4 linked regions of the Homo sapiens genome follow. The protein of the gene in region 2 purifies or fractionates together with the protein of the main gene of each other region. This does not show direct contact. Each region holds a gene or a part of one and is shown on either strand. Other genes may lie near its edges. The genes, in order: H2AZ1, RUVBL1, SHQ1 and WDCP.

The links.
Region 1: the proteins of RUVBL1 (region 2) and H2AZ1 purify together in Homo sapiens (affinity purification with mass spectrometry; 6 studies listed by BioGRID and IntAct, with this or other methods). This does not show direct contact.
Region 3: the proteins of RUVBL1 (region 2) and SHQ1 purify together in Homo sapiens (affinity purification with mass spectrometry; 4 studies listed by BioGRID and IntAct, with this or other methods). This does not show direct contact.
Region 4: the proteins of RUVBL1 (region 2) and WDCP purify together in Homo sapiens (affinity purification with mass spectrometry; 7 studies listed by BioGRID and IntAct, with this or other methods). This does not show direct contact.

The regions. Positions count from the first base shown.
Region 1 is NC_000004.12:99,947,565-99,954,912, forward strand, and holds H2AZ1 (histone H2A.Z), read right to left. Parts: upstream 2,712-7,348; 5' UTR 2,607-2,711; coding exon 2,604-2,606; intron 2,177-2,603; coding exon 2,099-2,176; intron 1,823-2,098; coding exon 1,709-1,822; intron 1,377-1,708; coding exon 1,247-1,376; intron 960-1,246; coding exon 898-959; 3' UTR 524-897; downstream 1-523. UniProt on the Homo sapiens protein: Variant histone H2A which replaces conventional H2A in a subset of nucleosomes. Nucleosomes wrap and compact DNA into chromatin, limiting DNA accessibility to the cellular machineries which require DNA as a template.
Region 2 is NC_000003.12:128,113,807-128,120,832, reverse strand, and holds part of RUVBL1 (ruvB-like 1), read left to right. Parts: intron 1-1,418; coding exon 1,419-1,505; intron 1,506-7,026. UniProt on the Homo sapiens protein: Possesses single-stranded DNA-stimulated ATPase and ATP-dependent DNA helicase (3' to 5') activity; hexamerization is thought to be critical for ATP hydrolysis and adjacent subunits in the ring-like structure contribute to the ATPase activity.
Region 3 is NC_000003.12:72,845,433-72,852,406, reverse strand, and holds the start of SHQ1 (protein SHQ1 homolog), read left to right. Parts: upstream 1-3,961; 5' UTR 3,962-4,066; coding exon 4,067-4,209; intron 4,210-6,974. UniProt on the Homo sapiens protein: Required for the quantitative accumulation of H/ACA ribonucleoproteins (RNPs), including telomerase, probably through the stabilization of DKC1, from the time of its synthesis until its association with NOP10, NHP2, and NAF1 at the nascent H/ACA RNA.
Region 4 is NC_000002.12:24,030,390-24,037,415, reverse strand, and holds part of WDCP (WD repeat and coiled-coil-containing protein), read left to right. Parts: intron 1-4,158; exon of another isoform or gene 4,159-4,210; intron 4,211-4,469; coding exon 4,470-4,587; intron 4,588-6,253; coding exon 6,254-6,483; 3' UTR 6,484-7,026.

The sequences.
Region 1 (7,348 bases), on a different chromosome or scaffold from region 2:
TGTTAATTCTGCTAACTACCATAACTCGGTACTTTCAAATAAGAAACCCTGCTTCTCTTCGATAAAATGGAGATAGTATATCCCCAATGATGTTACTGAGTACTTAACAACTTCAGACTTCAAAGCAGGGCCTGGCACGTAGCACTATTATCTTTAAAGTTTAAATTCGGAGTTCATTCTGTGGATATACAGGACATTCCTACCTATTCTCTCCCTCCCCAAGTCCACCATGCTAACAGCATACTAGTGCAGTGCTGTCACACAGCAAGCGAAGCCAATGTACAAACTGAAATGGTCACACTTAGCCTAAGAAACTGACAATCCCACTCCAGCTCCTGCCAACTTTTTAAATTAAAACTTTAGTAGCTCATATAACATTAAAAAAATATACTTGGGCTATCTCACTTTGTTGATCTACAGATTTGACAGTTCAGTCACAAAGAAATGTGCTTAGTTATTGCTGCTAGATGAGATACTCAAAACAAGTTCCTATTACAACCAAGCAAATTTAATACACAACTAGTTTGGGATATGACCTTTATTGAACTTATCCACCAGAGTGGAAATAATGTCTGTACAAAACCAAATGTTTGTTACTATAACTTCTGCATCACAATTAAAATCCAAACAGTTTTTTAAAAACAGTCAACTCAATCAAAACCCACTACTTCAGAATCAATAGCTTCTTTGAAGCCACAGTAACACTTAAATATGGTTAAGACTCGAATGCAGAAATTTGGTTGGTTGGAAAGCTAATTAAACTTCCAACTTGCTCAAATAGAATTACAAAAAGGCAAAATTGTGTTTTTCACAGAGATACAGTCCACTGGAATCACCAACACTGGACAGCTGTTAGAGTATTTAGAGTCCTGAGATAACAAGGAATCCAGGCATCCTTTAGACAGTCTTCTGTTGTCCTTTCTTCCCAATCAGAGATTTGTGGATGTGTGGAATGACACCTAGGAGAGTGACAGGAATTAATTCTACTTAAGATTTTTTAAAAAATCACAGTATTTGAAACCAAGAAAGTGTATACTGTTCAACTTGAAAGGTATCTTTAAAAACATGCAGCTCAAGTATGAAGTAAAAATTCATTGAGTTATACATATAAATCAAATTTCATGATACAACCATACTTCCATCATTGAAAATATACTTAAATTTCCTCTCCTGGAAAAACTAATTAAAAGCAGCAAAAAATTCCTTCCTCTGAAGAAATTTTTTAAAATGTTAGAAGTTAACATACCACCACCAGCAATTGTAGCCTTGATGAGAGAATCCAATTCTTCATCTCCACGAATAGCAAGTTGCAAGTGACGAGGGGTAATACGCTTTACCTTTAAGTCTTTTGATGCATTTCCTGCCAGTTCAAGTACCTAAAAGGCAGAATCTGTCAGTTGCCTTCCAACTTTCCTTTGGCCAAGATTCAGAGAACAGAATAAAACCCTCACAAACGCAGATCTACCAACTGGAATCGTTCCTCACTATCTGACTGGCAAGATATACAGGGGGCACGCAATTTTAATTCCAAGAGCAGAGAACTCAAGCTCAGTAGGATCCTTGTTGAACACCAGCTCCCTCTAGCGTTCTCTTAGGCCTCTCGCCGCGTTCAGGGCCTGGGAGTTTTCTTGCATCACTTTCCTCCTTCCCTCTTGCCGCCTCCCCGCCCCCCAAACCTTCTCCGGATTATAGGCGTTCACCCATTTACCTCTGCGGTGAGGTACTCCAGGATGGCTGCGCTGTACACAGCGGCAGTCGCGCCCACACGTCCATGACTGGTCGTCCTAGATTTTAGGTGTCGATGAATACGGCCCACTGGGAACTTAAATTTTAAGCATACACAAACATAAATGCACAAAAATGAGAACTAGAGATGGGGAAATTATATGCGCGCCAAAGCAAGGGGCACGGGCGCAGCAACGCGTCCCGACATCGAAACACGTGATTCCTCCCCCCCATATTTATCGTATGGGCAGCCCAAGTCGCGACACCGCATCACCCACGCATACACAAAACGCCCATCGAGAGCGATGAATAACAAAAAAGGAAATGCAAAGAAAAACATCATGACTCCCAGACTGCACGAACAACTACTGACCTGCAAGCCGGCTCTCTGCGAGCGGGAAACCGCCTTTGTCTTGGCCTTTCCGGAGTCCTTTCCAGCCTTACCGCCAGCCTGCGGCGCGCACACGCCCGCGAGCGGAGGAGGAACGGAGAATATAGAATTACCAAGGCGGCGCGCCCATCCCCCACCGCGGCGCGTCCCGCCGCGAGCGCGTCCCCGCACCCTGCCGGGGTCTCCGGCCCGCGGCGCGCCGCAGGGGCGACCCCGCCCGTTCGCCCCCCGCCGCGCGCTCGCCACGGCCGCGCGCCTCCGCCCGCCGGCCCCCAGCGGCGCTGCGCGCGCCACCCAACCGTCGCCGCCCGCCGCGAGATCCGAGGCTGCTCCGCTAGCAGCCGACAAAACACCTCCCCCCACTCTTCTAAATCCTGTCTCCGCGCGTTCCCAACCGTCGCCACTTCACCCCCATCCCTCTGTGTAACGGGTTTTTCTCTCGCCGGCAAAAACCCGCGGAGTCATCGAGCGTCTCTGCGAAGTTTACCATTTCGAATTCCGCTGAAGCTCAAGCAAGCAAGGCAGAGAAAAGGCTAATCGGACCCACGGTGAGATCCCACCACCTACTCCTTCGTCGCACCGCGATTCAAACTGCGCTGTCTCCCGCCTTCCCTGCTCCCTTTATACTGCAGAATGTTCCCTCATCCGGGAACTCGGATTGCTCATCCCACCAATGGCTGCCACCCGCCCTCGGGACGCGTCCTTGAGACTTCAGCCAATGAGCAAGCGAAGAAAAGGGTGGAGGGGCGGGCGCTTCTAATCTCAAGCCGCGATTGGGGCGTGGGGGGAGAGGCGGGGGAAGGCGGAGGGATGGGAACGGGGGAGAAGAAGGGCACCGCGGCGGGAGGGAAGAAACAGAGCGAGCTACGCTGCAGGAGCGCAGTTACCAGCCGGCTGCGATCACGTGCCTGGGAGGAGGAGCTGAGACCTCAGGGGAGGGGCGCGCGGTAGCGTCCCGGGTCCCCTAGCAGGGCTCTAGAGACCACGTGAAGTCTCCTCGGTATGTAGCACGCCGCCCCCACCACTCCCAGCCCCATTCCCAGCGCCTCTCGGGCGGAGACCTGCGACCCGCAGCCGCTTTCCGGGGCCCCGGACACCCCTTCCCTACCCTCTCAATCCCTGGCGGCTCCTCCCGTCTGACAGGTGGCGCGAACGCGTCCAGTGAGAGGAGTCTGAGGTTTGCCCTGACGCCTTCCACAGCCTTAGTAGAGATTCCGTGTTTCTTCCGTCTAGGCGAGTCCCCAGCCACCAACAGATCACGACCCGCTGCTCCCACTTTATTTTCAGCCGGGTCTTCCACCTCTCCCTCACTACTTATGAAATCCTCCACGGAATAGTTCTGTGACAGCAAACGGTGAAGCCAAGTCACCTCACTGGTCACGAAACCCTTTTTGTCTATACTTAGGGAGCTTCTGGCGAGGCAGTATTCTTTAATCAAATCATAAACCATATTTTTTGGAGACTACACATCAATGGGTTGTACCTGTAGCCTGGTGTGTAAAGCTCATTTAGTGAAACCTCAGAGCTATTATGTGTCAACTTTTCTACAGTAAGTATTTTGCCACATGACAAATGTTCGGCAAATGTCGATGGAGTAACTCTGACATGATTTTCAGGCAGTTAGAGGGTCCATGCAATGCAATCAGTTGCAAATGATGAGGTTAAAGTAATGGTACTGTACACACAGTACTATCCTTCCAACTAGTAGGTTATTAACACCTATGTACATCTCCAGCTGCTTGGGGACAGTAGTGTCTCAATCTCATTTGCAGTGTTTTAGTGTATTACATTTTTTAACATAATTGAATAGTTTCAATGTGACGAACATTTTGAAACATATACTCTATGCTGGGCATGGTGGCTCACACCTGTAATCCCAGCACTTTGGGAGGCCGAAGCGGGCAGATTACGAGGTCAGGAGTTCAAGACCAGCCTGGCCAACATGGTGACACCCCATCTCTACTAAAAATACAAAAATTAGCCAGGCATGGTGGCGCCCGCCTGTAATCCCAGCTACTCTGGAGGCTGAGGCAGGAGAATTGCTTGAACCCGGGAGGCGGCGGTTGTGGTGAGTCAAGATTGCGCCACTGCACTCAGCCTGGGGAACAGAGCGAGACTTTCTCAACAACAACAACAACAAACATATACTCTGAAGTACTTTAGATTGGGTTTCAATTTGAAAGATTTTATCGAATTAGAGGACCTCCCAATTTCTGTGAGATAAATTCTAGAGAAGAGCTTCCCAACAATTTTGACATTGAGGTTTATTATTTCTTGGAACCAAGGAACTCTTATGATGTCGTCGATAGCAAGACTTCAGCCGTTTTCCTACTGATAATATAATAATGATATATTAAGCTATGAAACCTGATAGTTAACGATGGCTCCAGGGAAGCTTTGTGATATATAAAAAACCAACATTAATGCCATCTCTAGTTTAGATAATACTCTGCCAGCTCTTTGCTATGAAGCCCCATAAAGGGAATTTACTGTTGCCTCGCTGAATAGTGGTTAGGAGGATGAACTCAGAAGCAAGTACAGATGGATTCTGTTCTGCCTCCTCCTCACTGTGTCATCTTAGTTACTAATCTTTCTGAGCTTCGAGTTCCTATTCTGTGAAAAGATAGTATCATCTATTTTCACATGGTTGAAAGATTAAGGAAAAAGGTATGCAATGTACATAGTAGCATGTGTTTGGCACGTAGTTAGCCCTCAGTAAATAACTGCTATTATTTTCTACATTGGATGCTGGAGAGGGATGAAATAAAGTATCTTTTATTTCTAAATCTTTTTTGCTATTTGGTTTATTTTCTTTCTTCGATTTGGAAGCAGCAAGCTTGAAACCTGCCCAAAGTATACACAACCAAGTCTTCCAACATCCAAACTAAAATCCAAAATTGGTTTAATAACTCAATAATTTTCCTTCAGAGAACAGGACAGTATTACTTTCTGCACTTTTCTCAGAGTGGTATGATGATTTCCTACTCTTTTTCCTGCCCCCCCCAGAAAAGGTATGATGCAAATATGTTAATATTGTTGGTTTATCTTTCCAGTTCCTGTGTTAATAGTAATGCATGTATATAATGTACTTAGCCAGAGCTATGTAATTACTTTTGTTTAATGCCATACCCAATTAGTTCTCTCACCATAAAAAAATATGAGATGCCAAGGCAAGAGGATCACTTCAGCCCAGGTGTTAAAGACCAGGCTGGGCAACATAGCGAGACCCCATCTCTACTAAAAATACAAAAATTAGCAAGGCATGGTGGCCCCTGCCTGTGGTCCCATCTACTCGGGAGGCTGAGGTGGAAGGACCACTTGAGCCCATGGTTGCAGTGAGCCATGATTGTGCCACTGAATTCCAGCCTGTGTGATAAACTGAGATCCTGTCTCGAAAAAACAACAAAAAATCCTCAGATGAGGTAGGCGAACCCACTATTATTGACACTTTCCTTAATAGCCTTTTCCTAACTAAGCCAGATTTTCCATGACTAGTTGCTATCTCCTTTGAAACACTAGCATGTATGTTAACTACTATTGTTCTTGTCTTTTTATGTAGAGAATTTGAGAGTCTTACAATTGGGAATTATAAATTTCTCAACTACATCTTGCCTTAAAAACGTATTTTTAAGAAAATATGAATAAGTTCTCAAGTTATTTCCAAGGATATTAGCCTAGATCGATAATGGCGGCAAAATTCTTTTCATCAGGAAATCTACATTAGAATCTTGGTTCTCTCTACCTAGGGCACCTAGGAAAAATATGTGCCTTCAAGGATTCACACAGCTGTGAATAACTGAGTTCCAGTGTGGTATTATGCAAAATATTGAACTAGAGTAAAAGAATGAGGGTTGAGTTTGGGTAGCCACTTACTTGCTATATGGCCTGAAGTATGTAAAACACTGAGGCACAGTTTCATTTATTAAATAGGGATTCGTAACACCAGATAAACCAACTTGATAGAATTGTGAAAGAGTTTCGTTAAGTGCGAAGAATATGTAGAGTGATGTAATAATATTTTTGGCACCGAGGCCATAGTCCTTCCTGAATTCTGTTTAGGTTGAGAAGCCTATGTGTTTAATTCAGTGTTGATAAAACCAAAGCCATCGATTTAAATTCCAAATTGCCCAGCTTTGCACTTCTCATGATCACAGATTGCACACAGGTAACAATTCACAAATGCAGGGAATAGATGACAAAGATCAGCAGAATCTACTCCACCCAGATCCACTGCCATTTCAGGAAAACAAAAGATCATGCTTTTAATATAGCACTAATTTACTTTTTCCATACATTAGTCCTCAGAATTTTTGGAAATTTATTGTTTTAAAATTAAAAAATCAAGATTCTTATCATATCCTTTTATTATCTATTATTGATATCAATATCGATCTTTAGGATTTTCAGGGCAGGGGAAGGGAGTCCATGTGTTGAAATTTTTTTCCTAAATAATAGTGTATTTGCCTAGGCAGTGGGTCCTCCTTCTCTGTATTCCTGTGTTCTACATCTATGGATTCAACCAACTGAGGATCAAAAATATTCACAACGTAAGCTGGGTGTGGCCAGGCGCCGTGGCTCACACCTATAATCCCATCACTTTGGGAGGCTGAGGCGGGTGGATCACTTGAGGCCAGGAGTTTGAGACCAACCTGGCCAACATGGTGAAACCCTGTCTCTAATAAAACTACAGAAATTAGCCATGTGTGGTGGCATGCACCTGTAATCCCAGCTTCTCAGGAGGCTGAGGCAGGAGAATCGCATGAACTTGGGAGGCAGAGGCTGAAGTGAGCAGAGATCATGCCACTGCACTCCAGCCTGAGTGACAGAGTGAGACTTGGTCTCAAGAAAAAATAATAATAATAAGCTGCATTTGGGGTGTGGCAGTTCATCCCTGTAATCCCAACAATTTGGGAGGCTGAGGTAAAAGGATCCCATGAAGCCAGAAATTCAAGACCAGCCTGGGCAACATAGCAAGGCCCTGTCTCTAAAAATTTTTTTTTTCAATTAGCCGGGCATGGTGGTACACACCTGTACTCCCAGCTACTAGGGAGCCTGAGGCAGGAGGATCCCTTGAGCCTAGAAGTTCAAGGCTGCAGTAAGCCATGATCACACCACTGCACTCCAGCCTGGGTAATAAAGCAAGGCCCTGACTTTCTAATTTTAAAAAGTATGGTTGCATCTGTACTAAACATATACAGACATTTTTTCCTGTAATTTCCTAAACCACATAGT
Region 2 (7,026 bases):
CCGGCTAACATGGTGAAACCCCTTCTCTACTAAAAATACAAGAAATTAGCTAGGCATGGTGGCAGGCGCCTGTAGTCCTTACATATTTTTTGAGGGGCTGCCATAAGTGTGGGACCAAGGTACTTCACAGTCCATGAGGAATAGAGGTAGAAGAGATAAGATGTATTCACAAGACTCTGGCACAGTGTGGTCACTGCCCAGAGAGAAGAGCACCTTTTAGATAGTCACGTATTCAGTTATTAAATCAGTGTAGCAAACCTTATATTATGTAATCCTGAGATATAGATGCTCAGCTAGTGTAACTTTCTCAGTGTTCCCCCCTTATAGTCAAATATTCTAAAATATATGAAGTTCCATAGCCCATTTATGGAATATGTGTGTGTATATATACACACATGTGTACTGCAAATGGTTAATAAAATTCAGAGATTTATAATGTATTTAAAATATACTAACAGATGATAAAGTAATTTAACCTTGAGGATTCAAAACATATTCAATGGATCTAATAGTGCCATAGGTTTAACTTCACATTCAGTATTTACAGTGTTCACTGATGGCCAGCTAGTACTCTATGTCATTGATTCTTACCCCTTAATAGGTTACTCTGGGAATTTGATGAAAGCTATGGATCCTTTCTCTGGAAAAAATGTATATATGAACATAAACACAGTTTCGTTCCCAACTTCAAGAGGTATTTGGGCCCCTGGCGTCTATCCCTGTACCCTGGGCCAAAAATCAGTGTTCCCACTTGTACTCATACTGTGCATTCTTCACACAGTAGTAGCTAGCACCATCTTTTAAAAACAAATCATAGCATGACACATAGTCTTCAAGACCTTTTCAGTGGCTTTGTATTATTTATGTAGAATAAAATCCAAACTTTACCACACACTGTAAGTTCCTGTTCTGCGTTCTGGCCGCTGTCTACCTCTTCAACCTCATCTTCCTGGTCTTTTTCGCTATACTTTGGTCACTGCAACCTTTCTGTCCCTTGGATATGCCAAGCTTGTTTCTGCTTTGGATTTTCTGAATTCGCTGTTTTCTTTGCCTGGAACGCTGACTCCTGCTCCTCCCAGAGGTTCACATATCAAATTAAATGTCATCAGAAAGACACTCCAGGATCACTTTCTAGCCACTCGTTCTCTCTCATCATCCCTTTTTCTTCATAGTAGTGATGAAGATTATGTGTGCAATGTTTGTATGTTTGTATCCCTCCCTAAAACATGAGCTCCACAAGTACAAGGCTTTTCTGCCTTGCCTTCGTTACCCTCGGCACCTAGAACAGTGACTGCAGTGCACTGGCACTCAGTGTTAGTTGGATGAGTGTGTGACTTGTGTAGGCCAGGGACTGAGATTTTTCCCCTTGTGAAACATTTTAATATTGATTTATTATTTCTTTCCATTGTGGTGTGTAGGCATGTGGCGTCATAGTAGAATTAATCAAAAGCAAGAAAATGGCTGGAAGAGCTGTCTTGTTGGCAGGACCTCCTGGAACTGGCAAGGTACTCATTTTCTCTCATTTTTTAAATCTACCCAGGAGAATGATCCTAGTGTCTAAGCCAAATTGAATTCATGTCTTAACTAGTCTTTGTTTAGCTAAATGGGTTATATGTATGTTTTTAAAATTAATATGCAATAATACAATTGGGTATCTAAAATCCCTGCTTCTAAAATTCAAATTATCCTGGCCTACCTCCAGAGAAGAAAGAATGAAGTCCTTGAAGGGGTCTCATTGTCTCTAGAATTTGTCCTTTTTCTCTTTCAAGTCTCCTTTGCTGTGGAAATACATTTCTGTTGGCCTAGGGCTTCATAAAGATCTTCTGAGTGACATCTTACTTGAGGGGACAAAAAAATGAGTCAAGCATTCTTCCAAATGCTAGCTTTACGCATCGCTATTGTGGCTGTGTGGGAGATGAAAAAAAGGAAAACAAGAATTAGAGACATGATTTTTATCTTCAAGGGGCTTACAGTCTCTCCAGGGCAGAAAGAAAGGAAATCATGACAGCACAGGAGGACTCAGTATGAGTGCTCAGCTTTGAGGTATTGACTAATATTAAATGCAGCTGGAATTTAAGGAGGCAGCACTGTGGGCTGGTACAGCTGGAAGGGTTGAGACTTGACATTTTCCCTTCAGAGCTGGGAGAGGATTTGGCTTTGCAGGGAAGATAAGGGCCTTTCAGGCAGAGGACACCGTGTGGCTTCTTGGGATTCGTGAGGGGACTGGCCAGATACTTGAAACTCACCAGAGTTCCCAATTTGAGCTTGCTTATTCTTCAAAAGGGCCGCTTGATGTGGGCAAGTAGGAGCTTGGGGTTGTGTGTGAAAAGAAATGGGCTTTAAATTCCAGCTCTAGTATTGACTTGCTATGAGACCTGAGGCAGGTCCCTTAACTTTTCTAAGCAAAAGCATACTCTACCTATTTCAAGCAATTATTAAACTGATCGATTGTAAGATAATGACTTGCATTATAATTTTGAAATGATTACTGATTGTGTATCTTATATTGGTATCTTACAAGAGGAAGAAGTGCTATATTTGTGAACAGTTTTTTCTCTTCCTATATAAAAGCAAATTGTGAACAGTTTTTTAAACTGTAAAGTGCCATACAGATGTGAGCTTCAGTTACCTCTCTCCAGGCAACATTAGCTTGTCCAGTGCATTTACCATTTATTTGCTTGCTATTCCTTATATCTTAGACCTTCTCTTTCCCTCCATTTTTCTTCTTCCTAAAGTAAATAATTTAGAAATTTCTTCTAGAAGTTTGTTGGTGGGAAAGTCTCTCACGTTTGCATTCATTATGTTGCCCTTGTTTTGAAAAAGAGCTATGTTGGCTATATAATTCAGTTGACAGATATTTTCTTCAGTACTGTTTCACAGTACTTCTCTCTCAATGTTATTTGCTCCTTTGGCTTCTGTTGTTTTTGAGAAGTCTAATTTTGAGGGTTTTGAGTCTTCTTTCTGCATGTTTTTGAGATATTTTTGGGTTTGGTGTTTCACTATTATATGTCAGAGTGGATTAATTTTTGTTTATCATGCTTAATGCTAATTGTGCTTCTTGAATCTGAGTATTATGTCTCTGCTCAATTCTGGAAAATTGTCAGCCTTAGGAGAATCGCTTGAACCTGGGAGGCAGAGGTATCAGTGAGCCAAGATCATGCCATTGCACTCTAGCCTGGGTGACAGAGCAAGACTACGTCTCAAAAAAAAAAAAAACAAAAAAACTGTCAGCGTTAATCTCTTCAGCTATTGCCTTTCCCCATTCTCTTTGTTCTTTCCTTCTGGAACTCCACTGAGATGAGGTTAAGATTGCAGTGGTTTTCAACCTGGGGCAGTTTTGCCCTTGCAGGGGACTTTGACAACGTCTGGAGACATTTTTGGTTCTCACGACTTGGTTGGGGGTGCTACTGGCATCTAGTGGGTGGAGGCCAGGGATGCTACTAAACATCCTGTAGTGCACAGAGCAGTTTCCATAATAAGGAATTATCTGGCCACAAACGTCATGGAGTCAAGCTGAGAAACCCTGGGCTAGAGCTTCTCGTTTTGTCCTCTTTGTCTTTTAGCCTCTCATATTTGTTATCTTTTTGACTCTGCTAAATTATGGGTAATTTCTTTTAGATCTTTGTTCCAGTCTAATTGTCTCTTAAGCTATGATTAAGTGACTGATTAATCCAATCTATTGAATATTTTTTTCCTTTTCATTTTGAAAAGTTTGGAACCTACAAAAAACTTGAAAGAATAGTGTGATGAGCCCCTCTATACCCTATACCTAGATAGCCAGTTATAAATATTTTGTGACATTTGCTTTTTCTCTAGTTTATTTCTGAACCACTTGACAGTAAGTTGTAAGGATGTCTTCCTACATGACCACGGTGCCATCATCAGACCCACCTTGCTAATGCTATTATATTCCCCCAATTTTTGTCAATTAAAAATTAAATTAATTAATTTTTAAAAAATGAGCAGCAGAGCCAGGGAGAGAATGGTGTCTCAGGAACCAAGAAAGGAGAACCTTTAAAGAAAGGAGTAGGTAACCATATCCACTGTGGTAGAGAAATCACAAAGATGAGGGAGCCTGGCAGCTCATCATATGATTCCATGAGCAGTTAACAAATGTGCTTTCAAAGACAACGAAGTTAAATTGTTTTAATGAAAAGAAAATATAGGTGATAGAAATCAGAAAACATCTTTCCAAGTTGTTTCAGTTTTTGGCTTTTTAAAAAACACCAGAATATCAAAATGCAATCAAAGATTACACACTGCATAAATTGTTACAAGTTATAATGTCTTTTTTTTTTTTTTTTGAGATGAAGTCTCGCTCTCTTGCCCAGGGTGGAGTACAGTGGCGTGATCTTGGCTCACTGCAATCTCTGCCTCCCAGGTTCAAACGATTCTCCTGCCTCAGCCTCCTGGGTAGCTGGGATTACAGGTGCCTGGCTAATTTTTGTATTTTTAGTGGAGATGGGGTTTCATCATGTTGGTCAGGCTGGTCTCGAACTCCTGACTTTAGGTGATCCACCTGCCTTGGCTTCCCAAAGTGCTGGGATTACAGGCGTGAGCCACTGTGCCTGGCCCCCAGATGTATTTTGTTATGGCCCACCTTTTTTACTCATGTGTGGCCCTTCAAGAGTCCTCTTTTATGTTTTTTTTTTAATTGTAATGTTTTTGTTTGTTTGTTTGTTTTTTGAGACAGTTTCAGTCTGTCGCCCAGGCTGGAGTGCAGTGGTCTGTTACCCAGGCTGGAGTGCAGTGATCTCGGCTCACTGCAGTCTCTACCTCTTGGGTTCAGGTGGTCCTCCCACCTCAGCCTCCTGAGTAGCTGGGACTACAGGTGCACACCACCACGCTTTGGCTAATTTTTGTAGTTTTCGTAGAGATGGGGTATCGCCATTTTGCCCAGGCTGGTCTTGAACTCCTGGGCTCAAGCAATCCACCTGCCTCGGCCTCCCAAAGTGCTGGGATTGCAGGCTTGAGCCACCGTGCCCAGTCCCGGTTTTATTCAGGGGTTTCTATCTTAAGTGCTATACCTTGCTGAGCTTTCCTGTATCTACAGTCTCTGAACTTTCAAGGCAAATAGTTTACTGCTCTGAATGTTATTATTTATTCAATTCTAGGTGTTTTGTAAGAGGAGAGGTTTTCAGTGGACCCAGTGTGCCATATTGCTAGAAGCATATGTCTTTCATTTTTTTTGGTGATATTGTATTGCTTTCCTCCCAGGAAATATGAGAAGTGCTCAGCACTGTGGTATTACCTTATAAGTTTGTCCACTCCCTTCCAATGTGTATGAAGGAATTTGGTGACTTCTGCTTAATGGTTTGCTGCAGGGTCCCAAAGTTTAGGCAACTTACCTGGGTGACAGGCAGAAATACTGCTTATTTTAGAGATGCAAATGCATGGTTCATATGCATTTCCACTCTTGAGGACCTCACACTGTTAATAATGGGTTTGGGTTTTAGAAGAAGGAGATATTCAGATGAGATTGAAAAATAGAGATTTCTTCAACCTTCTTTTGGCAACAACCTCTTTTTTGTGCCACTTGTCACTCACATGGGGTGAGTACAAAAAAAAATGGCTTTGGAGATTGGGGTTTGCATCCTGGTGCTGCTGCTTGCGGTTTTACCTTGGGTGTGTTGGTAACTTTTGAGTTTGTTTCTTAATCTATAAAATACAAACTAGATGATCAAGGTCATAGGCTAGTTGGGGAGATTCGATGAGGTCTATGCAGCACTCTGTAGTAGGTGTAGGAATAGTAGCCATATCATATACTTTCCCTCTGGAAGTCTTTAAATGGAGGAAACGAGACACACATGAAGCTTTTTTTTTTTAACCAAGTATTTATCATATTTTAATGGAAGTATGTTCATCTCTTCTGTATTAGTTAAAGGGAGGGAGAGTGCCATTGAATTGGATGTGGTCACTGTCTTTGAAGTTCAAAACTGAGGGTAGGGAATTGGGGCTGGCAGAGATACAAGGAAGAGAAAGGAGTAACTGGGAAGGGGTGGTCCTGTCCAGCCTGTGGCCCCACGGGGAGTCTGCTGTTAGAGTGCTGCTCCTCTCATTGTGCCCTTTCATGTTCCAGAGATTTTTTTCCTTTGCTCTTAGAAGAATACCAGTTTTCAAGGTGTCAGCCTTGAGCTCACAAGTGCAGATGCCTAATGAGGCAGGCAACGGGGATGAGGGAAGTGGCTGGGTGCACTGTGGCGTGTCTGCCTTGAGCCCCAGGTGCTCGGCCTTGCTGAAGGTCACCATGAGACTGCAGGCCAAACAGAACCAGGCTGTGAGCAACGAGTTTGCCACTTGTGATCTAGCATGGCACTTTAGTACTTTCATTTGACAGATGAGGAAATCGGGCACCTGAGATTTGCTGAGTGCCCAAGGTCACACTGAAAATTAGTGGCAGAACCAGCACTAATCTTTCTGTTCCTGGCTAGTGCATTTTATACTGTGCTATACACTGATTCTCTACCAGATTTTACTACCTCAAAACTATCACCAAAAGGGCATAGAAAAGAAAATCTGAGAGGAACCTTGACTGTTAATTTTAAGACACCGTCTCAGTTTCACTTTGTTCTTCAGTAACAAGCTTGTTTTCAGTCTTAGCCCATATACCTGGGGAGCTGGCCTTACTCGTGCTCCTGTTTCAGAGTTGAGGAAAGATGAAAATGGCATTTAGAGGCCATGGCATTGCCCAGTTCTGTACCAACTTTAAAGCATTTGCTTGCCATACTTGACATTTGACCGTACACCTGTGAAGTCTGGTTCTGTTTAGCATTTGCCAGCTGTAATTATCTTGTCAAAAATCAATTTGTAGTTTACCACAGGGCGTGTTTAAGTGTAACTTGTTAAGACCAACTCATAGCTTCAAAATCCTACTTGAGGTATCCTTCTTCACTCTTTGTGGGCTACATAACATAAAATGAACAATCCATTCATTCATTCCTTCATTATTTCTGATGGGTTGTAGATTGGTGTTTTCCTGTATTTGTAAAAAGAGAAAGCAGGTATCTCAAAGATCCAGTGGTGTAT
Region 3 (6,974 bases), about 55 Mb from region 2:
GTTAGCTGCGTGTGGTGAAACATACCTGTAGTCCTAGCTATTTGGGAGGCTGAGGTGGGAGGATTGCTTGAGCCTAGGAGGTTGAGGCTGCAGTGAGCTATGATCCTGCCACTGCACTCCAACCTGGGAAACAGCACAAGACCCTGTCTCTGAAAAAAAAAACAACAAAAAAACAAAGAGTACAATTGTGGATAAACTTATTCTTGACAAAAATGTAGTCAAATGGAAATATTGTAATGCCACATATGTATTTTATATATTATATATATATATATATATATATATATATATATATATATAGAGAGAGAGAGAGAGAGAGAGAGAGAGAGAGAGAGAGAGAGAGAGAGAGATATGGAGTCTTGCTCTGTCACCCAGGCTGGAGTGCAATGGTGCAATCTCAGCTCACTGCAACCTCCACCTCCCAGGTTCAAAGGATTCTTTTGCCTCACAGCCTTCCGAGTAGCTGGGATTACAGGTGGTGCCACCACACCTGGCTAATTTTTTTGTATTTTTAGTAGAAACAAAGTTTTCCCATGTTGGCCACAGCAGTCTCAAATTCTTGACCTCAAGTGATCCACCCGCCTAGGCCTCCCAAAGTGCTGGGATTACAGGCATGGGCGACCGTGCCCAGCCTGTAATCCTATATTAAGTGAAGAAAGCAAATATAGATTATGACATTCTTTTGTTGAAAATACTTCCCATACTTTTATGAATAGGAGTCTGAAAAGATGTATGCCAAAATAATAACAGTGGTTAAGACGTAGTTTGCAAATACTGTGTAAGATTCCACCACCTCCCCAAAATGGCTCAGAGAATGAACTAGCGCTATAAACAACTTATTCAGGAAGCTATTTTTCAACATAGGTTAAAGCTCCATTCTTTGAGATAACATTGTTTTAATCACCTATATGCATGCCACCTTCTGGAAACAAGGAGTATTTCACCATTAAAAGACTTCTAACAATAGAACTTGGTAATAAAGCTGACATTGGAATTGTTTATAAAAACCATTTTTAATTTAACATTTAATTTGGAAGCTTATGGATCACAATCAGGGTTGTTAGACCAGAGGAGGGGCCAATTTAATATAATGAAAGATGATAGGTTACACACTTGTCCTACATAAGTTGGTCATGGAAAAAACTTTATCTTATTATTTTATTTCATGTTCTCTATAGGCCAGAAGGAAAAACTATTTTTAAAACAGTGGAAGGCCATTCAAAAGTAAGCTTTCAGAAAATGAAAAGATAAAAAACACTGCAACATTTGAATGCTCAAAAATGATGAAAAATTGCATTCCTGTTTTCCCCTCTAAACCAGAGCTAATTTAAAACATTAAAATAATGTCTTTATTCTCAAGCAATGTCTGTATTCAGAAATAGAAACTCAATTTGATCTATGAATCAATATAGCTATGTCTCAAAAATGAACCAAAGTAGGAAAAAAAGCATGTTGCAGAATTACTTTCATAGTGTGAGAATGTGCCCATATAAAGTGGGTCTAAACACAAAGCAACAGGGTCCATAGAAATGGATGTAGAAATAGAAAAGGGTCTGAAGTGATAGCTAGGACTGCCTTTGAGGAAGCAGGAGAAAGAACCAAAGTTGCATGGCAGCCAAAAGGAACTTTATGTTCTTAAGTGAGAATGAATCTATAACTTATATTTACCACTAATAGAAATGCAAAAATAAGAGAACTATTGCCTGCAAGAAAACAAAAACCAACAGAAACCCAAAACAACAAAACCTTGTTATATACTTGAAACTATCCGTATTTTGTGATTTAGCAGATGCAGTATATATTTCTTATAATGACGGCAGCACTGAACCATGTTGTCTGTTTTCCTGTGTTGCAGTCCTGTGTGTGTGTGTGTTGCCAGACACATAATAAAGTACCCAGGAAATGCACAGCTCTAGTTTGCAAAGTGCTTTCAATTAGAATTTCCTCATGGATAGCATAGCTTGTTTCAGTTGATTCTCTGGCATTAATAATTTAAAAATATTAATGCTTGTGACCTACAGGAATGAGGTCCCATGGCAGATGTAAAGATTATTTCTTTTTTTTTTTTTTGAGATGGAGTTTCACTCTTGTCACCCAGGCTGGAGTGAAATGGCACAATCTCGGCTTACTGCAACTTCCGCCTCCTGGGTTCAAGGGATTCTCCTGCCTCAGCCTCCTGAGTAGCTGGGATTATAGGCACACACCACCATGCCTGGCTAATTTTTGTATTTTTAGTAGAGACGGAGTTTCACCATCTTGGCCAGGCTAGTCTCGAACTCCTGACCTCAGGTGATCCACCCCCTCGGCCTCCCAAAGTGGTGGGATTACAGGTGTGAGCCACCGCTCCCGGCCAAGATTCTTTGTAAAGAAGCTAATTTGGAATAGTTTAGTCACAGGCCTATCTCAAGGGACCTTTTGAGAGCTTTATTAAATCAAAGTTGGCATCAATTCATTGTCAATATTGAGTGCCTATTACTTGTAAGGCTCAGTATGGTCTAAAGCAGGCAGGCTTGGCTTTAGAATGTGAAACAAAGTAGGTGGTAATAACAGAGGGAGTCAACTCTGTAATAGTGTAGAGCCTGGGCCTAGGAATCAGACTCACCTGGGTTTCAATTCCCATTGCACCACTTACTAGCTGTGAGATCCTGTGCAAGCCAAGGGAATATATAATGCCTACTTCATAGAGCGGTCAGGAGGGAGAATGAGATCATTACAAAGGGTTTGCTGCAGTGCTGGCACATAGTAAATATTCAGTTAATGTTAGCCCCTGTTACTATTAATTTTTTTTCTGAGTCCTAATGAAGTTTCAAGAATGTCTCCTTAGAATCATAAAACAGCTGGAGATTGAAAAGACTTTTGAAGTTTTCTGGTTATCTCCACTGTCCTAGGAGAGTACTTTTCATCCCTTTTCCACTGATACTTAAAACCACGGAATAAATACCACAACTGGATTATTCTAATTAGTGGTGGAATAACAGGAAACAACATGTGTGGAAAGGCCAAGGGAATATGTGGGGGAAGAGGGAAACCAGCGGGAGAGGCACTGAGAGAGTGTAAGGGGCACACTCCAAAGGGAGAAAATACAAGGAAGACAAGTAGAAAAAAAGACAGAAAAGATGTCCTCAGACAAGTGTAAGGACAAGAGTGAGAAAAAGGAAAGAAGGGGAATACAGAGGGACCTTAATTTGTGAATGCAGTCACCGACACGGTTTAAGAGTCAAACGTTCTGAGTTCTAATTACTGTAAAATGCATGGTTATAAAACGTACTGATTAACCTCTCTGAGCCGTTTTCTTTAGAGTTTGCAGCGTAGATTAGATGAGATTAGCGGGACGGACGCTCTGTTAAAGAGAAAACTCTTCAAATAAGCCGTTAAGAATGAGAGAGAAAGCTGCAGAAAAAGAGAAGTGGAAAGAGAGAGGGAGGAAAGGGAAAGTGTAAGAGGAATTGTTCACAAGGCAGGTGAGAACTAAGGGAAACCACTGTAACGGTGCTGCTGTGGCTACTGCGGTGACTACTTCAGCACATCAAGCGTTGACAACTTGCCAAGTTCGTTATTAGAGTTCTACATGCACAATTTCATGCTACCCTCACAGCATTTCTATGGGGCTAGGTTCTCGCATTATCCGCGTTTTACAGAAGATATAGAGAGGTTTTGTAACTTTCCCAAGGTCTTACAGCTGAGAAGTTGTGGCCAGGAAGGGATTCAAACGCACGTCTGTTTACCTGTCAAGCCAGTGCTGTTAAAATCATCTCTAAGAACCTCGAAAAAGGCTCGGTTGCTAGTCATCCCGCCGGTTCAACGCCGGCTCCCAGGCACCACTCGCCACGCCCTTTCTCCGCCCGGGGGTTTTGAAAGTTCCGCCTCTTCTCGAACGGCGTCCCGTCTCCATGGAGATTGGCGTGGGGAGAGACTTCCTGCCTTACGCGCGAGCACTTCCGCCTCGAGCCGGAAGCTCCGTCCCTCACACCGAGAGTTCCTGCGCGTGGGGAGTTGGAGAGTTTGCGTGGCGGGAACGCGGCGGCAGTGAGAGCGAGCGGCGCCGGCCCTTGCGTCCGGTGCGGCGATGCTGACCCCGGCGTTCGACCTCAGCCAGGATCCGGACTTCCTGACTATCGCCATCCGCGTGCCCTACGCCCGGGTCTCCGAGTTCGACGTCTACTTCGAGGGGTCTGACTTCAAGTTCTACGCCAAGCCATACTTTCTCAGGCGAGTTCGGGGTGCCTGGCCGCAGGAAAGGCGCATTCGTTAGATAGCTGCTTTAGAGGGAGAATGCAAGGTCGAGAGAGCAGTGCTCGATTGCGCGAATGCCTTTTCCCGACGTTTCCGCAGCTTCTCTTGGTGCCAGGGAACTGCCCTCTTCCAGGGGTGCGTTTTAGATGCTGCGGAAGCCCTTTTCCTTCTTGAGCTTTCTTAAATCCCATATCAAAGGATTGCGGAATCACTTGAAAAAGTGACGTTTGGACCGTGTCACTTTCCCGTTTCTGCCCTGTCGCCCTAGTTCTCGTCCCGTTCTGACTTGTTCTGTTCTTTCCTTTCACTCCGCGTTTGCTCTCCCAGTCTCTCCCTTCCTGGGAACGGCGCGCGCTGACATCTCCGTGACTTCCCAACCCGTCGGTCCTTTTAACTTTGCCCAGGCCGCCTTCTGTTGATCTATCTCTTGTCTGTCCGCTCCCTACTTACCGAAATTCTTACCTTTTTTGGACCTCTTGACACCAAATTAGCCTAGTTCTCCTGCTTCCCTGCTGTCTGCTGCTCTTCTGTTTGGTTTTGTCCCTGAAGTGTGGTTGTTTCCCCCAAGTCTCCGTGAGGGTCTGTCAGCACTTGATCTGTTTAAATTATTCTCCTTGCAGAATCGTAACCTTGGTAGCAGCTAACACTGATAACTCGTAGTGTGGTGGACAAGCAGTTCCGTTAAGTGCTTTATGATGGTGTATCTCATTTAACTTTGACGGTGATCCTTAGGGATAAGCACTGCTATTAACCCCATTCCACAGAACCCGCTGCTACATATTCATCCTAAAGTATTGCCAATCTCTTGTCCTTCTCTTTATCCATCCTCCTAATCTTTCTGAAGTGTAGCTGCATCCTACTTTTCCCACCCAAGTACTTTTGTGGTACAAACCTTCTCCACCAGTCAAGGTGGTTTTTTCACTGTTGCTGAACCAGTTTTGCTCAGATTTCCCTTAGACCATATAACGTCCGTATTTGAATTATTGCACTTTCCAGTTTTTTAATTCACTTATTTCTTTAATTTATTTATTGAGTTTCAGTGTTGGTATTATTGTGCTGAACAAGACAAAGTCCTGCCCTCATGTACTTTTCACTGGGGAGAGGAAAACAATAAACAGTGTACTTAATTGTGGTGAGTGCTATGAGGAGAAAGAAGTGCACTAATAGAGAATGAAAAAGGGCCCATGTTTTATAAAGTGGTCAGGAAAAGCCTTTCTGGGGAGGCGATATTTAAGCCAAGATGTGAAGAATAGGAAGAAGATTATGGTGGTAGCAAATATTTATTGAATTTTTACTCCAGGTTAGTGCTTTATACGGATTATCTCATTTGTTATTAGGACAGTGTTACAACGAGGCTTTATTATTTACCCGTTGCCGTGGATGGATTATTTGTGGGCACCCCCCCAACTCTTGTCCCCAAATTCATATGTTAAAGGTCTAATTCCTGTGTCACTTCTGCTTTATTGTATTCATCAAAACAGTCCCAGAGCCTGCTGAATTTTAAGGGGAGGGAACATAGACCTTCATGGTTGGGAAGAGTGCTGTGAGATGGGCATTCTTTGATAATACAGTTTGCCCCCAGATGTGGTGGCTCACTCCTGTAATCCCAGCACTTTGGGATGCCGAGGTGGGCAGATCACTTGAGGTCAGGAGTTTGAGACCGGCCTGACCAACATGGTTAAACCCCATCTGTACTAAAAATACAAAAAAATTATCTGGGCTTGATGGCACGCGCTTGTAGTCCTAGCTACTTGGGAAGCTTGAGGTGAGAGAATCGCTTGAACCTGGGGGGCGAAGGTTGCAGTGAGCCAAGATTGCGCTATCGCACTCCAGCCTGAGTAACAGAGCGAGACTGTCTAAAAAAAAAAAAAAAAAGAACATACAGTTTGCTATACCAAGGATGAATAAAACCTGGTCCCTCTCCTTGAAGAATGGAGACTGTAGCTGCGGAGGCCCCATGTAAGCAAATATAATTTTCTCTGCAGTAAGAATTTAACTCTAGGCTTATAGAGTTTAGGGGAAGGGAGCTGGTAATAATAGCTCACATTTTCTGAATGCTCACCTGTTGTGCCGGCCACTAAGCTCTTTGCATTATCATTTCATGCTCATAGTAACGCTTGGATAGTTACTGTTATTTCCCCCCTTTACAGAAGAGGGATTTATGATTCTTGAAGAATAATTAACTTGTACAAAGAAGGTTGTTACACATCTGGTAAATGGCAGATCTAGGAGTTAATTCAGATTCTGACACTAAAGTTAGCGTTTGTAACCATTATAACAAACTCATCCATAAACTGACCCCTTATTCTGGCTTAGAGGGATTTTCATTCTGAAAATGTATTGAAGCTTGAGGAAACCTTGGGATTAAAGGTCCTGGGCCTTTTGGGACTGTCAGCTGTTTTTGTTTTTAATCATATTTAGTAGGAAACAAGGGGGAGGGCCATGGGAAGAAAGGAAGCTCAAATTTCAAGTTTGGAATGATATGGAGTGGGCCTGATATGCCCTTCTGATAAGTTTAAATTATCTAGGCAACATGAGGCAGCCATAGACACTTTTTAAAATAGAAAAGTGACAATTAGATTCCTGTTTTAGAAAAATTATTTTGGAGCCTCAGTGGAAGACTGATTGAACTAGGGTAAAACTGGAAGCAGGGAAATCACTTCATTTCTTTTTTCTTTTTTTTTTTTTGGACACAGAATCTCACTCTGTTGCCCAGGCTGGAGTGCAGTGGCAAATGATCT
Region 4 (7,026 bases), on a different chromosome or scaffold from region 2:
ATTTATATTTAGAAAAAAAATCATGTTATTTCATTGTGACAACCTTTTCCTTATATAATAGAGATACTCCTCCAGTTATAAAAAAGGTTATGTTGCTGGGCTCCATGGCTCACGCCTGTAATCCTAGCACTTTGGGAGGCCGAGGCAAGTGGATCACCTGAGGTCAGGAGTTCGAGACCAGCCTGGCCAATGTGGTGAAACCCTGTCTCTAACAAAAATATAAAAATTAGCTGGGCATGGTGATGGGCGCCTGTAATCCCAGCTACTTGGGAAAGCAGGAGTATCACTTGAGCCCGGGAGGCACAGGTTTCAGTGAGCCGAGACTGTGCCACTGCACTCCAGCCTGGGCAACAGGGCGAGACTCCGTCTCAAAGAAAAAGGAAAAGGTTATGTTCATTTAAAATGTTTTGATGCATTTCTTTATGCATGCATGTCCAAACATTATATAAGTGGGATCATATTATACATGTTTTTATCATGGACACTTTCCTCCTATATAAAATATGGCCTTGCCCCATCTTCCCCTTAATCCGCTGTAACCAGCAGCTTAACATGGATCCTTTCGTGACTTTCTCCATGGTCACATGATCTAACACAGGTCTTTGTGTACATAGATATATAGGTATGTGGGAATGGTTTGTCATTGTTTTTACAAAAATAGGGTGATATGGTGCACTCTTTACTTCATACTGAGAGTATGCTCTTTATTTAGCCATTCCCTTGTTGATTGACATTCACTTTGTTTTTAGTTTTTAGCTACTCCAAATGATGCTGCAGTAGTACTCTTATATGTATCCATTCATATTAGTACCTTTATTTCTGTTGGATTGGTTCCCAGAAGTAGAAATGCAAATTTGAAGAGTATATGTGTTTCTACTTTTAATTGAGTTACCAGATTGCCTCTCAAAGATTTTTACTTAACAGTGCATCATCACACGCCCGCCAGCTATGTATAAGGCTGTCCTTTTCCTCGTATGTCACCAATCTGATCAGTGACCCTCCTGCTTCAGCCTCCTGAGCAGCTGAGACTACAAGCACATGCCACCACACTTGGCTAATTTTTTTTTTTTTTAGCAGAGACAGGATCTTGCTATGTTGCCTAGGCTGATCATGACCTCCTGGGCTCAAGTGATAGTCTTGCCTCAGCCTCCCAAAGTGCTGGGATTACAGGTGTGTGCCACTGCATGTGGCCCCAACCCTACATTTTTTTAAAGAGGATTTTTGCCACATTAACTACATGGAGTTTTCAGTAGTAGAGTTTTAATTTTTTTTTTTAAGTCACAGCTTTGCTGTGAGGAGCATTTTATTTTATTTATTTATTTATTTATTTATTTATTTATTTATTTATTTTTGAGACGGAGTCTCTGTCACCAGGCTGGAGTGCAGTGGCGCGATCTCAGCTCGCTGCAACCTCCAACTCCCAGGTTCTAGCAATTCTCCTGCCTCAGCCTCCCAAGTAGCTGGGATTACAGGCACGTGCCACCACACCTGGCTAATTTTTGTATTCTTAGTAGAGGCGGGGTTTCACCGTGTTGGCCAGGATGAGCTCAATCTCCTGACCTTGTGATCTGCCCGCCTTGGCCTCCCAGAGTGCTGAGATTACACGTGTAAGCCACTGCGCCCGGCCTAATTTTTTTTTAATTAAAAAAAATTTTTTTTTAACTATAGAGACAAGGTCTTGCTATGTTGCCCAGGCTTGTTTGGAAGTCCTGGGCTCAAGCAGTCCTCCTGCTTCAGCCTCCCAAAGCGCTGGGATTACAGGTGTGAGCCACTGCACCCAGCCATAGTTTTGATTTTTTTAAAATTATTTTATTTATAAATGTGATAACTGGTTTGGATTTCTTTCCTACTATGACTTTTTAAAGAGTTTGTTTTCTTTTTCTTCTGTCTTTTTTTAATAGGTAATTCATTTATTTGGTTTAAAAAGCAAAACTGTATTTTAATAAAAACTGTATACCAAGAACTCTTATTCCTACCCTATGTTTCTTCAGCCTGTTCTCCTTTCCTCCTTTAGGTAACCATTTTTATTTTTATTTCTTTATGCAGATACTAGCAGACTTTAGTTATGTATTTTTATTTCCCCTTTTGTTACACAAAAGGGAAGGTGATATACACACCTTTTCATTTTCCATTTAATAGTATGTCCTAGAGAGCTCTTTATATCAGCACACAGAGCTCTTTTTTCATCTTTTTTTCCACAGCTGCATAGTATTTTTTTTTCCTAATTACAAAAGTAATATATACTTGTTGAGGAAAAAAATTTTACCATTACAGAAAGTAAAAATTTTCCATAATCCAACCTTTAGAGAAAATCACAGATATAGCTAAATATTTTATTAGATGTTAGATGTAAATATTTCCATATTTTTTCTGTACATTTATCTAATCCAAAAAAAATCTAATATAAAAATATATTATTTTTAAAATTTTCTTTAAATAGGCTATTTTACTTGCAAACAATAATATATCTTTCTGTTTTTAAAACACTTATAAATGTAAAATTTTATATTTTTAAAAACTAAGGTTAAAACAACCATGTTTGGCCAGGCACAGTGGCTTAAACCTGTAACCCCAGAACTTTGGGAGGCCGAGATGGGTAGATCACTTGAGTCCAGGAGTTCGAGACCAGCCTGGGCAGCATGGCAAAACCCTGTCTCTACCGAAAAATACAAAAATTAGCCAGCCGTGATGGCACCCACCTGTTTTCCCAGCTACTTGGGAGGCTGAGGTGTGAGGATCACCTAAGCTGAGGAGGTTGAGGCTGCAGTGAGCTGTGATCGTGCCACTGCACGCCAGCCTGGGAAACAGAGCAAGACTCTGTCTCAAAAAAAAAAAAAAAAAGTTTTGTTGCCCTTTCAATTCCTCAGTTTTTTAGTTTATAATTATGTCATCCAACCAAGCTGTTGTCAGTAGTTATCTCTGGAGGATAGAATTTTGGGGGCTTTACTGTCTGCATTATATATTTCTGTTATATTTTTATTTTATTTATTTATTTTTAGATAGAGCTTTGCTTTGTCACCCAGGCCGGAGTGCAGTGGCGCGATCTTGGCTCACTGCAACCTCCGCCTCCTGGGTTCAAGCGATTCTCTGCCTCAGCCACCCAGGTAGTTGGGATTACAGGTGTGCACCACCACACCCAGCTAATTTTTGTATTTATAGTAGAGATGGGGTTTCACCATGTTGGCCAGGCTGGTCTCGAACTCCTGACCTCAAGTGATCCACCCGCCTTGGCCTTCCAAAGTTCTGGGATTACAGGCGTGAGCCACCACACCCGGCCCTATTATACTTTTAAAAAATTGATCATTTATTCCTTTTGTAATGAGAAAAGTAAAAGTTACACAATAATCAAAAGCAAGAAATAGTTTCCCCTGTAATTTCAGAAATTACATTTCATAAGACGTGAAATAAATGATTAGTTGGTTTTGACTTTTACAGTTTATTCCTGTGACTTCATTTAAAAATATTAGTGGACATATTCTTTGAGTGGTTCATCCTACCACAGTGATGTATAGTTTTATTTTCTTTTTATGAGATGGGGTCTTGCCATGTTGCCCAGGCTGCTCTCCAATACCTGGGCTCAAGCAATCCATGCACTCTGGCCTCCCAAAGTGCTTAACAACAAAATAAGTTAGACACATAACTTATACAACTGTCCTTCATTTATTTATTTATTTAGAGATGGAGTCTGTCTCTGTCACTCAGCCTGGAGTACAGTGGCACCTTCTCAGCTCACTGCAACCTTTGCCTCCTGGGTTCAAGTGATTCTCCTACCTCAGCCTCCCGAGTAGCTGGGACTACAAGTGTGTACCACCATGCCTGGCTAACTTTTTTATTTTTTGTAAAGACAGGGTTTTGCCATATTGCCCAGGCTGGTCTTGAACTCCTGGGCTCAAGTGATCTGTCCATCTTAGCCTCCCAAACTTTTGGTACTAAGGGGTGAGCCACTGTGCCCAGCCAATTTTTAATGACTTTAAAATTTACAAATCATTTATTTTTATTTGTGCTTTTTCTAAGCTATGTGAATTTTGACCATGGTTTGTTTATTTTATGCAAATCCTCTGCTACTCTACCACTTAGGACACTCTCTCGGCATTTTTTTTCCTAATAAACCATGAGGTGTCTTAGCTATATCTGAAACAGCCAAGAAGGTGTTCTTACCGTCAGATTGTGTCTCTCAGGCTGCTGTCCATCATCCTTTTAGTGTTATTAGTTGTATTCTAGGAGAGCCAGTTCCTAGTGATGAAGAACCCTGAGGAAAGAGTAGAACAAAAGGAAAAATAAGGCTGTTTTGTTCGGATTTTTTAGTTGTGTTAAATAATGCAGCAAAGAGCTCCTTAAAACTGAAGTCCAGTTGATTAGTGGTAATAGATAAGAATTTTTTAAAAAACTATTTACACATTCCTTTCTTAAGAAATGTTAACTCGATTACTTCTGCAATCAGTTTAACAACTTTTATTTTTTATTTGCAGAAACCTTATTATCTAGGTCCTGTTGTTGAAAAAAGAGCGGTGCTTCTCTGTGATGGTAAACTAAGGCTCAGTACAGTTCAGCAGACTTTTGGCCTTTCTCTCATTGAAATGCTACATGGTAGGTCGTGCTCAGAAATTGACCCTAGCTAACATCCTTGCCTCCCCCACCATCTGTTTTAACTATGCCGGTAATGAAAATGAGGGATACCAACCATTCAGTAATTCACTGGATAGTTAACAAGTAATCTATTATTATTATTATTATTGAGACAGGGTCTTGCTCTGTTGCCCAGGCCAGAGTGCCTCGGTGTGATCATAGCTCACTGCAGCCTCGAACTCCTGAGCTCAAGCAATCCTCCCATCTCAGACTCCCAACTAGTGAGAACTATAGGTGTTCACTACCATGCCCAGCCAAGTTTTGTTTGTTTGTTTGTTTGTTTTTTGGAGATGGAGTCTTGCTCTGCCACCCGGTCCTGGAGTACAGTGGCGCAGTCTCAGCTCACTGCAACCTCCGCCTCCCGGGTTCAAGCAATTCTCCTGTCTCAGCCTCCTGAGTAGCTGGGACTACAGGCGCACGCTGCCATGCCTGGCTAATTTTTTGTATTTTCGTAGAGACGGGTTTCACTGTGTTGCCCAGGCTGAGCTCAGGCAATCCGCCTGCCTCGGCCTCCCAAAGTGCTGGGATTAAAGGCGTGAGCCACTGCACCCAGCCTCAGCCAAGTTTAAAAAAAATGTTTGTAGATAACGGGGTCTCACTCTGTTGCCCAGGCTGGTCTTGAACTCCTGACCTCAAGTGATCCGTCCACCTTGGCCTCCCAAAGTGCTATGATTACTGGCATAAGCCACCACACCCAGCCTTAACAAATATTATTAATTGCCTACTATATACCCAGGCCTAGTATAGGTGCCAAAACATATGGAAAATATGCACCCTGCCCTTAGGGAACTTACAGCCTAGCTGGAAAAGTTAAATGTACATATGAAAAAATAAGAAAAGACTTACAAAGCAGTGTATAACAACTGCAAGGAAGTAACAGAAAGCCTCATTTATTTCTGTTGCACTAAAATGTAAAGATCATAGCAGCATTGCAGAATGTTTCTTTCTTTCTTTTTTTTTTTTTGAGACCGAGTCTCACTCTGTCACCCAGGCTGGAATGCAGTGGCATGATCTCGGCTCACTGCAACCTCCGCCTCCTGGGTTCAAGCGATTCTCCTGCCTCAGCCTCCCGAGTAGCTGGGACTACAGGCACATGCCACCACGCCTGGCTAATATTTTGTATTTTTAGTAGAAATGGGGTTTCACCATGTTAGCCAGGATGGTCTCGATCTCCTGACCTCGAGATCTGCCCGCCTCGGCCTCCCAAAGTGGTGGGATTATAGGCGTGAGCCACTGCGCCCGGCCTACAGAATATTTCTTTGAGGAGTTGCCATTCTAATATGGAGTAAACATGGATGTTCAAAGGATATTCCTAAGTGGCAAGGGACTGAGTCATGCCAGATTCATCAGATGTGGAGCATGGTTGTTTTCTTATGCCTCATTCTTGTAACAGTAGCCACCACATTGAACATCAAATATCATTTCATTTTTTCCCCTTTTTCTCCTACCTGACCCTAAGTAATACCCAGTCTTCCCAATACCCCATTCTCTGTAAAATCTTACAAGGATTGAGTTGAATATTATCAACTACTATATTCCTTCACTCAGAAAAAAAAATTTGTAGTCATATGTTTCATCATAAGAATAATATATACTAAATTGCCTGTGTATTTATTTTTATTTGCAGATTCCCACTGGATTCTTCTCTCTGCTGACAGTGAGGGCTTTATCCCGTTAACCTTCACAGCCACACAGGAAATAATCATAAGAGATGGCAGCCTGTCCAGGTCAGATGTCTTCAGAGACTCTTTTTCTCACAGTCCAGGTGCTGTTTCTTCTCTTAAAGTCTTTACAGGCCTTGCTGCCCCCAGTTTAGATACCACTGGCTGTTGTAACCATGTAGATGGCATGGCTTGATATCTGCAGTGTCCTTGCTGTGTAGCTCTTCAGATGAGACCATTACAAACAAGGCCTGCTTGACACTGGACACTCGCCAATGAGACTCCCACTGCACTCAGGCGAAGCGCTTGCCATGGTCGGCTCTCCTGGTTTCCCCCTGTTTCCCCTGAGCTGAGGCTCGCTGCTGTGTAGCAGAGCTCAGTCTTTATTAGATGGCTCCGAAAGTGGTGTTTATGTATTCATGACTGTGTGGTTTTGACTAAGGGCAGAATTCTCAGAACAAAACAATATTATGGTGCCATATGGATGGTGTTTTATGGTTTCTCTGAGGCTTTGTGTCCCTTGTCCAAAGCTGCATTGAAGCTGTCTTAGGAGCACTTAAAAGATACCTTGGCATTGTTATAGGTCTTTTTCTTGGCTTCAAGAGGAGGTTGAGGAGTCTGCTGGGGGGCATGTGCTCTAGCATATTAACCTCAAACCAGCAAGAATTAGCAGAGCTCCAAGGAGGACCAGAGACCCACTGGCTTCTGCTCTCAGGAACAGGAAGTGGCTCTGATGTTG